3 linked regions of the Homo sapiens genome follow. The protein of the gene in region 2 purifies or fractionates together with the protein of the main gene of each other region. This does not show direct contact. Each region holds a gene or a part of one and is shown on either strand. Other genes may lie near its edges.

Evidence for each region.
Region 1: the proteins of GNA12 (region 2) and F2R purify together in Homo sapiens (affinity purification with western blotting, with the first as the bait; one study listed by BioGRID). This does not show direct contact.
Region 3: the proteins of GNA12 (region 2) and ARHGEF28 purify together in Homo sapiens (affinity purification with western blotting, with the first as the bait; one study listed by BioGRID). This does not show direct contact.

What each region holds. Positions count from the first base shown.
Region 1 is NC_000005.10:76,733,119-76,736,419, reverse strand, and holds the end of F2R (proteinase-activated receptor 1 isoform 1 precursor), read right to left. Parts: coding exon 2,917-3,301; 3' UTR 650-2,916; downstream 1-649. UniProt on the Homo sapiens protein: High affinity receptor that binds the activated thrombin, leading to calcium release from intracellular stores.
Region 2 is NC_000007.14:2,834,274-2,837,929, forward strand, and holds part of GNA12 (guanine nucleotide-binding protein subunit alpha-12), read right to left. Parts: intron 1-3,656. UniProt on the Homo sapiens protein: Guanine nucleotide-binding proteins (G proteins) are involved as modulators or transducers in various transmembrane signaling systems. Activates effector molecule RhoA by binding and activating RhoGEFs (ARHGEF12/LARG).
Region 3 is NC_000005.10:73,912,608-73,916,263, forward strand, and holds part of ARHGEF28 (rho guanine nucleotide exchange factor 28), read left to right. Parts: intron 1-3,656. UniProt on the Homo sapiens protein: Functions as a RHOA-specific guanine nucleotide exchange factor regulating signaling pathways downstream of integrins and growth factor receptors. Functions in axonal branching, synapse formation and dendritic morphogenesis.

The sequences.
Region 1 (3,301 bases), on a different chromosome or scaffold from region 2:
GAGAAGTACTAGTCATTTTGCTTTAAATTTCCCCTCCTCCCTTCTGCCTGAGGGAGTGCTAGACAGCAAAGGACTGTCATTCAGCCAGAGAAGACAGCACAGCCATTTTACGGATTTCCTTTCTGCTCTGACATTTAATTTCTCTCTCACTAGGGAAGAACTGCAGACACTACCCATGATGTCTATAACTCAGAAATTTGAATATATTCTCAATAAGCTTAAATTTTCTTAAGAAGGGATTGAGAGAGAGAGAGAGAGCTAATCACTCAATGTCTTTGGCAGAAATGGTGCTGTTTGTTTTATTTTTTCCTTGCATTTGTTCTTCCAGATCCCTTCTCCACGGCAAAGGAAGCTGATCTTTATGGACTACTTCACTCTGGGTATTGGGTTAAGATTAGGATCAAGGGGAGGCCTCCCAAGAGATCAGAGGGTGAGGGAGAGGCGTCAGTGTGTTCCCTCCTGTACCTGGGCCTTGGCAGTAATGGCTTCCCCTGATTGCTAGTCTCTGGGGGGTGCTTCACCAGTCCCCGTTGGTTCCCTTAACCCTGTCTACACCTTTGTAAATCACCTCTTCATTAAATGCTCTTCAGTTAAACCCTTAAAGTGTGCCAGGACCAGAAAGATATAATACTAATTTGTTCCAAAGAGATACCAAGCAAATGTTCACATTTATTAATACAGGTTATGTTTTTAAGAATGAACATAAAAACAGTGACATACTATTTTGTAAGTACATTAATGATATCATATTTTAATATATACAGACTAATAAACAATGACAGTAAATCTTCACTGATTTAGATAAAATGAATAGTCACTAAATTAATAAAACCAGTGCTAGCTTCTACTTACAATACAGTTATATTACTTTTATGTAAGTTATTCTATGGTATTTGGAAATAGTTTGCTCTTTTATTTTTTTATTTTTTATTTATTTTTATTTTTTGAGATGGAGTCTTGCTCTGTTGCCCAGGCTGGAGCACAGTGGCGCGATCTCGGCTCACTACAAGGTCCGCCTCCTGGGTTCACGCCAGTCTCCTGCCTCAGCCTCCCGAGTAGCTGGGACTACAGGTGCCTGCCACCACGCCCGGCTAATTTTTTTTGCATTTTTAGTAGAGACGGGTTTCACCGTGTTAGCCAGGATGGTCTCGATCTCCTGACCTCGTGATCCACCCGCCTCAGCCTCCCAAAGTGCTGGGATTACAGGCGTGAGCCACCGCGCCTGGCCTGCTCTTTTAAATAAACATTTGCCTTGCAACTTTCTATTTTGTTTAAAATGCTACCATTTTTTCGTAAGATAAGAGATATGTTTCAACCTAATTTCCAAATTACTTTGTGAATTCCATGAAGATTTTCTATACTTGATACTTAGGAGGTTAAAAAATGCTTTTAAAGTCTCATTAAGTCTTAAGTAAATGGAAATTATAGAATAATTTTCCTAGATTTCAATGTCAATTCTATTTTCTTCTGTTATTTCTAAGCAGACTGACATGATTGATTCTTAAAAGAAAACCTGATTTGAGCAATCTATTGAGCAAAACATTTGTAAATAAATAGTGCCCAATTAAATCAGACTTATTTTAAAAAATATATGTCCTGTACTGCATTGTTTTCATTAAGTTATAACCACAAGAAATAGTAACCCAAATGTTCAAACTTCTTTAGCTGACAGGCCTTGTTTGTGTGAAACATATTTATTACACATACATCACACTCTATGCATGATCTACTTTGCTCTTGAGGGCAGGTCTCTGTCTTATTCCACTCTGTACACTCAGCACCTATTGGAGTGGCCACAGCGCATAATGGGTGCTTCCATATCAGAACTGACATTTCAGAACAACTACTAGATGTGTTTACACCCAGTGGATGGGCATCCAGAAGTCCATGCCTTCTTTCGTTGTTTTTAAGATGGGTAGAGAAGTCTTTCATGGTCATTACCTCCTAGGATATCACATTCTGCTTTGCCAGTTTCTCATAAACATGATCAGTTCACAGCCAATCCCAGGAGGATGGAGCAAATGTAGTGGCCCCAGTCTCACTGCTGTGAGGCTCAGCAGGAAGGTTTCTGGCCAATCTGTGTCTGACATGGCCCTGGCATGTGTCTGCTGCCTGGAGTCCTCCATCGGGGGCGGACACATGCAGCTCTCAGGAATAGCCTACTCTGAAAGCCAGCCTACATTCACTAGAGGACTTATGCTCAGTTTTGGCTTATGTGTACAGTGTGTAAAATGTAAAAAATACTACCCATATCAAAACAGAGGCTTTTCATCTGTTTCCATAATTTTAGGAATTCAAACTTGGATATGTTTAAAATTGAAAACACTAGAACTTCTACGCACAGATAGTACTAAGTCTTACCTCTTAATAACTTAAACCTTGCCGTCAAACAATTTCAAAATACACTTATTTGCAAAAGTGGTACAAGCCCAAACTATGGAGTCTCTCACTGTTGATGAACACCATGAAATGTTCAGGGCTAAACTCTACCAACCTAGACTTTGCATATTAAATCAGGGAATCAGAGATTATTTTCATAATTGCTGGGGTGCGGGGAAAGAGTGTTTTAAAGTGCCTATTCTATACTGCACTGCAAATAATATATGTGTGTGCATACATCTACATATACACACATGTAAGTATGTATATGTCACCTAGCTATATCCAGAAGTGACATTCATTTATTACTGTAGCATTGGCAATATTCCCTTGGAATAACACCGTCATCTCGTCCTGTTATCTTTCTGGTAATTGACAAAAATACATGCTTGACAGCTCCCATAAAAAGCAGGTATGCAAGTCGTACATCTGTTGTTTTAGGAGGTGAATCAATAAAGTTTGGGTGGGGACTAATAGAATCCTCAGGTTATTCACTTTTATAAACTTTTCTTTTTAACCTCCCAGCAGTCCCTTTTCCTAAGTTAACAGCTTTTTGTATATGCTGTTATTCAGGTTACTAGAGCAGGTATCCATTTTACTTGCCATCAACTGCCCACTGCTGTTATAACTGCTGGGATCGGAACTTTCTTTGCAGCATAAGATACTGTAGACGTACCTCTGGCACTCAGAGGAAGCGTAATAGTAAATTAGGGGGTCGATGCAGCAGCTTATGCTGCTGACACAGACACAGAGGAGGTAGGCAAAGTAGGCAGCCTCTGTGGTGGAAGTGTGAGAAAGGAATGAGTAATGCGCAATCAGGAGGACGTTTGTGGGTCCGAAGCAAATGATGAAGATGCAGAAAACAGCAGCTGACAGGAACAAAGCCCGGGACTTCTTGCTGCGGTTGGCAACTGCGGAAGAG
Region 2 (3,656 bases):
TGCTGAAATCCTACAAAACCTTCAAAGGCCAGCTCAAATCACAATTCAATAAGGCTTTTTTAGATACCTCAGCCAGAATTAATCTTCCCACTGGCCTCCTGCAACACCTCTCCAGTGGCATTTACCATGGTATCCATTCACGCTGTATGTTAAAGTTACTTGTGCAACTGTCTCCCCAGCTTGAGAGTGCGAGTGGAGAGTAGGGGCTCTGCAATATGCACTGAATATCCCTTCTGCATCAGCACCTAGCACAATGCCGTGGAGATTTTGTTGAACTTGATCTTTTTGTTTCAGTGGCAACAAGAGACCACCCACTCTAATCATCTAATTCTTCAAAAAGTTTCTAAAATCAGCCAAACAGTCACGCACTGCATAATGATGTTTTGGTAAAAGATGAACCACATATACGATGGTGGTCCCATAAGGTTATAACACCAGATTTTTACAGCACGTTTTCTATGTTTAGATACATAAATGCTTGCCATTGTGCTACAATGGCCCACAGTATTCAGTATAGTAACATGCGGTACAGGTTTGCAGTCTGGGAGCAATAGGCCTAGGTATACGGTCAGCTATATTATCTAGGTTTGTGTAGGTCCACTCTAGGATGTTTGCGTAAGAACCTCACCTAACGATGCATTTCCTGGACGGGATCCCAGTCGTTAAGCAATGCGTGACTATGCATCGCGATGCATGACTATACATTGCGATGCGTGACTATACATCTGCATATAAGACAAGTCTACCTTGGGGTGGCTAAAGGCTACACTAATGCAATCATGTGGATGGTTAGGACTTCTAGTCTATATAACAAGGAACCTTCAGACAGCTAACATTTTATCCACTTCTAACTGGATGTGAAATTTAGTAATGAAAACGCTCTTGGGATTTAACGCATCACACATAAGTCAGGGAATGGAAGCACTGTGAGATAAATCTAAGCTGGCCTGATGTCTTCCAACAGCCTGAGGCACACCCCACCACCAGAGGCATTATTACACAACTTCGGGAACACCAAATACACAAACTTTAAGGACAGCCCAGTCAGGAAGTGACGAGATATCATCTGTAGAATTAGAAAAATAAAAAGAATAAACTAGGCTGTTCCCCACACCCCCATTGATGTTGGCCCACGGGGGTTGCCGGTCCCTTTAACTGGCATGTACCAAGTCCTTCCAGGTGACATTTCCTCCCTGTGTCCCAGCTTTTAGGGATCATTGGCCATGGGTCCAAGGGGAGGGAATGTGGAGACAGGGTTGTATTTGCCAGGGAATTCTGGGCCGACAGGGAGCAAGAGCGCGCTTGGGGGCAAAGTCCCATTGTCTCATGCTGTTCTCCAGTCCCGAGATGGTGGCCACCATGAAGAAGACGGCTGCAGAAGATGTCAATGTTACTTTCGAAGAGCAACAAAAGATAAACAAATTTGCATGGAATACAAGTAGAATCACAGAGCTGAAGGAAGAAATAGAAGTAAAACAGAAACAACTCCAAAACGTAGAAGATGCTCGTGACGGTACCATGCTTGCAGATGCTGACTGCTTAATGATGCCTTATCAAATCGGTGATGTCTTCATTAGCCATTCTCAAGAAGAAACACAGGAAATGTTAGAAGCAGCAAATAAAAATTTGCAAGAAGCAACTGACGCCTTAGAATCCAAAGTCGAAGCAATTCAGTGGGTGTGAGCAGATTTGAAAGTTCAGTTGTATGCAAAATTTGGGAGCAGCATAAACCTTGAAGCTGATGAAAGTTAAACATTTTATAATACTTAAAAAAATTTGTTTAATAAACTTGATTATTGTTTAAGAAAAAAAGAATAAACTAGAAAGTCTTACTGGCAATCTTTACAAAAAAATCAAAGCAACTAGTAGATTCAAATAATGAACTGCAGAGGATAGAGTGAGGTAATGAAGTCCTCGCACTATCTAACAGAAATCCTATGTGCAAATTCAGGCACAACTGTGATCAAGATGGAAAAGCCCCAGACACTGAGTAAAAAGACCAGGATGATGGAGACTTCCACAAAGTAACAGCTCTACTCCTCCCAGGTCTGCCCCCTTACAGCTAAAAAGAAAGTTCTGAATGTAACACAACCAGCAAGTGCAGAAAGCAGGTGGAAAGAAGGCGGCAGGCTACCCAGCGACCTCAGGACTTGAGGGATGACAAGGCAGTGAGTTCTCTGGGTGTCCTTACTGCCTCCTACTTACCCAGGATGGGCGCTGCAGAAGCCTCCAAGCTGGAACAGCCAAAAGGTACAGAGAAAAAGAACTCCAAGAAGAGCCTGTTCTTGGCCAAAGGACCCAGAAAAGGATGCTCTTACAACAGCAGACCTTTTTGGCAATGCCCGTCCTATTCCAAATAACAAGAGAAGGCCAGGTGCGGTGGCCCACACCTGTAATCCCAGCACTTTGGGAGGCCGAGGCGGGTGGATCACCTGAGGTCAGGAGTTCGAGACCAGCCTGGCCAACATGGTGAAGTCCCATTTCTACTAAAAATACAAAAATTAGCTGGGCATGGTGGTGCGTGCCTGTAGTCCCAGCTACTTGGGAGGCTGAGGCAGGAGAATCGCTTGAACCTGGGTGGCGGAGGTTGCAGTGAGCCAGGATTGCGCCACTGCACTCCAGCCCGGGCAACAAGAGCGAAACTCCATCTCAACAACAACAAAAAACAAATACAAGAGAAAACATCAGCAGAGAAACCACATATACCACCCACTGAGGTTTCAGTGGAATTGAGGGGGAAATTGATCTTCTACCCTCAAGGAACCAGGTGACATGCTCCAAGTGGCATGTCAAATAGTGCTGGCAGGGCCAAGCAGGGATCTCACCTCCCATTCTCTGCCTGGAAGAAGCAGGAGGTGCTCCAATTCCCTCACCAGGGTGGTGTCAGCAGGGCCCAGTGGGGAAGTGCACCCCCACCACGAGGCAGAAAGAGGGGATGGGAGGGTGGGAGGGGGGAAGGCTGGATTAGCTGTCGCTTTGCTACCCCCTCCCATTCCCTAGAATCAGCAACGCCCAGAGGGGAGCTGATGTTCCAACCCCACTCAACAAGGCCACAGGGTCTCAGAGACCCGGAGGTCATTAACAAAAGTGCTAACAGCCGTATGTCAGAGTCCCAGAAGGAGATGAGAGAGAGGGACTGAAATAGTCATTCAAGAAATAATGGCTGAAAACTTCCCACATTTGGCAAGAGACATAAATGTACAGATTCAAGAAGCCAAGCAAACCCCAAATATAATAAATGGGATGAAGCCTGTGCCAAGACAAATCATAATGAAACTTCTGAAAACTAAACATAAAACTCTTCAAAGCAGCCAGAGAGGAGCAATGCATGAACTCGGAGAGGAGACCAACTCAAACGACAGTAGATTTCTCTTCTGAAACAATGTGAAGGTATCCTTCAGGAATGAAGAGGAAATACAGGCATTCTTGGACAAAGGAAAGCTAAGAGAATCTGTTGCAAGCAAACTGATCGTTAAAGAATGGCTAAAGGAAGTTCTCTAAACAGAAAGGAAATGACAACAGAAGAAGGCTTAGAGCCTCAGAAAGAAGACCATCAGAATAGGTAATAAAAAAAAAAGGGACAATTTTATTCAGTCAAAAGGGGGGAAAAGATAATATAATCTCCTACTCCTAATGAGTTTTTAAAATCACAGTTG
Region 3 (3,656 bases), on a different chromosome or scaffold from region 2:
GGTAACATTCTTCTTTCTTGTCAGCATATAGGAGAGAATGAAATAGTTTTTTAAAGTATTATTTCAGATATTCTTTAGGTAAAGAAAAAATATGATGGAATCGTTCAGATTAAATAAAAGGTCAAGCCAAATTTTGAAAAATGTAACTTCTTTAATATATTATCTTACAACTTTACTACAATAGAGAGCAGATTGCAGAATTCTTTTTCTAAGCACATGTTGCTTTGCTGTGTTGGTTCATTAATCTGCTATTTACAGTGCTTCATGTGGTTTTGTCAGCATGGTTTTACATACTGGCTTTGGTATAATTCCGAAACTCAGTTTGAGTTAAACCACATTCAGCTTTTGTTTAAAAGAAGCATGTCTCTTACTTTTTGTGTATCTCCCATCTTTTTCTATTGACTTGTGCTTCAAAGTAAAACTTTTTAAACCATTTGGCAGCATACTTGCAGTAGATAGAAAATGTACTAAGGAAATAAACAGTGATTATATACAAAACCAGTCTATCCACATGTAAGGAATTAGAGCCAAAGGAAATGCTGAGAAATGTACTTACGCTTAAGAAATTGTATGTCCAGAGTAGGCCAAGGACGCTCAGGACATTGACAGGAGAGAAGAAAGTCAACTGTGGCTTAAATCTCTCAGGAACATCCTGGTTTATATAAGTAGGGATTACATCAGAAATGCTGTGTGTACTGTTCACCACTGGAGTTTTGCAGCTAGTCAAAAAACCTTATTTATGTTTACTTCATGATAAGCAATTTCTACAGGGGAGAAAAGAAAGTCAGAGAATAGGCGGTGATAAGAAAGTGGATTGAGAATAGGATATATACACTTAAAAGAGTGGTCAAGGCTAGATAAAATTATTCAAACCCTCCAGAGCTTTCACAGCTTTTATCATTGACAGTAACACAACATCAGCCACTGGTGATGGCCTTAGCTAGGCTCCGTGGGCGCTTGCCACACATGATCTTGGGGGACAGTGACTGCGGGGGGCCGGACAGGAAGAAGCAGGCTCCAGGGTGTGCTGGGTGGTAACAGCTGATGTGCCAGAACCAAGGACCAGGCAGTGTTGTTGTCCCCTCTTCTGTGTTTTGCTGCTGAATCTGGGTGAGTGGCCATCAGTGACCACTACTGAGGATCTCCATAGTTCACTGTAATCTGGCTAACATAATTTGCCTATAATGTTGTGGGCTGGTATTTTAGCTAAATGTGTACTTAACCATGATTTCATTCAGGCTTCAGTCACTCTTTCATTGTTAGGCCATAACGTCTGCCGTTCCAGGTAACATCTTAAAGAATGGTTTGCCCTTTTGCCTAGTCTGGTACTGTGGATAGATGATCAGCTCAGATCAGTGAAAATGTGAATTTCTGGAACAGTAAGGCTGATGGGAAAAATTGTATATAAAAACAATTCTCCAATGTGTTTAGATACCACCTAGATAGGAATTTCTGTTGGTTTTTTCAGTACAGCCTCAGCAGACATTTTTGTGCTCTAATTGTGATTGGTTTCTGAATTGCTCTACCCCCACCCCTGCCACCAGTAATTATATGACACATCAAATTTCAGGCACTGTGCTAAGGTTTTACATGGGGAAACTCATTTAATACTCACAACAACCCACTGAGATGGTTCTGTCCTTTGAGAGGGGCAGCTGGGATACAGAAAGGTCAAGTAACTTGTCCAGATCACATAGCTAGTAAATTGAACCTGGGAATTGAACCTGGGAAGATTGGCTTTAGAGCCCATGCTGTCAATCATTACACTATACATTCTGAATTGCTTTTTTTTTTTTTTTTTTTTTTTGAGAAGGAGTCTCTCTTTGTCGCCCAGGCTGGAGTGCAGTGGTAATATCTTGGCTCACTGCAACCTCCACCTCCCGAGTTCAGGTGATTCTCCTGCCTCAGCCTCCTGAGTAGCTGGGATTACAGGTGCCCGCCATCACACCTGGCTGATTTTTGTATTTTCAGTAGAGACGGAGTTTCGCCAAGTTGTCCAGGCTGGTCTCGAACTCCTGACCTCAAGTAATCCACTGGCCTTGGCCTCCCAAAGTGTTGGGATTACAGGCTTAAGGCACCACACCCGGGCTAAATTATTAATTTCTAGAAAGCTGTTTTGAGCTGTACTTTTTTTGAGATTGAGAGTCTCACTCTGTCGCCCAGGTTGGAGTTCAGTGGCGTGATTTTCAATCACTGCAACCTCCACCTCCTGGGCTCCATCCACCTCCTGGACTCACTGCAACCTCCCACTTCAGCCTCCTGAGTAGATGGGACTACAGACTTGCACTATGCCCAGCTAATTTTTGGCTTTTTTGTAGAGACGGGGTTTCCCCATATTGCCCAGGCGGGTCTTGAACTCCTGGACTGAAGCGATTGGCTGTTTCAGCCTCCCAAAGTGCTGGGATTATAGGCATGAGCCACAGTGCCCAGCCATGAGTTGTACTTTTTAAAGAAGTTGGTTTAGATATAGAACTAATCTAATCCTTTTGTAATGCCTAGTGGGATGTTCATGATTAAGGACCAGGTTTTTGTTTTTATTGGTTTTTTTTTCTCCCCTCCTTCCCTTTTTAATAGTAACATTTGGAAAATATTTCTAAATGTTTTGGATTACTGTGGCCAACTCTTGCATGGGGCCTGAACATTTTCAGTATCATAAATACTCTTTAGCTTTACTTTTTTCTCATAAGGGATATTTTCTTAAAAATATTTTGTTTCTCCAATGTTGCCTAATAATAAACCCATGTTATCTGTAAATATTTTTTAAGATAGAACTTTAAAGAACTTTACTTTCCAGTTTTGGAAGTTATTTCATGAACAAAATTCTTGGATGTTCAAACATTAAATCCAAATTGATATTTTATTTGTAGTGGAAGAGATGGTTGGCTTAAGAACTTTTTCTGTACTCCTCTATGGGACACCAGCCAAGACTACAGAATATTTGAATTTCCTTAAACAATAGTCTCTGTGGGACAATTGCTATGTAATCGGCCCTATGAGATGCTCAACAGCATTACTCTGAAAGGCAAAAACAAAGAAACAACAATAAAAAAACCCAACATTTTATTCTTGTGGCTTTTTTTCTCCTAGCTTTAACATTTTAGAACTATATATTGAATGCATCTATATGTTATTTGCCTTTTTCATTAACAGAGGAAACATCTTATGGTATAAAAATCTGAAATCCTAATCTCCCTTTTCAGTTGTATTTTTCTGTATGCCTCAATATTTGCAGGTTTCCCAAAAGTTCTCTTCAGTTCAGTTAAAGCATTATGATTTTGTTATGCATAGGCTAAAATGTAAGTCAAGCCAAATTTTATGTTAATAATATAGATACTGGGAAAAAAGTAACTTGATTAAGTTTGAGTTCTCTTTCCTTTTACTACATATTAGAATTTGGTGCCAAGGAAACTATTTTCAAAATTCAAAGCATTGTATTTAGAATACCTCATCTTGATAATTTTTTTTTAAAAGACAGCTGTGTTAAACTTTGACAAGTTTTTTATGTAAGGGAAGAAAATAGAAAATTTCCAAATGAAAACCTATGCCATACTTAGTATTTAAATAAGTCTTAAGAAGTGAGAGGATGATAATTTCTCATGTTTTAAAATATTTCATAATTCAGAAATTGACACCTTACTTGTGTAATCTATATGGAA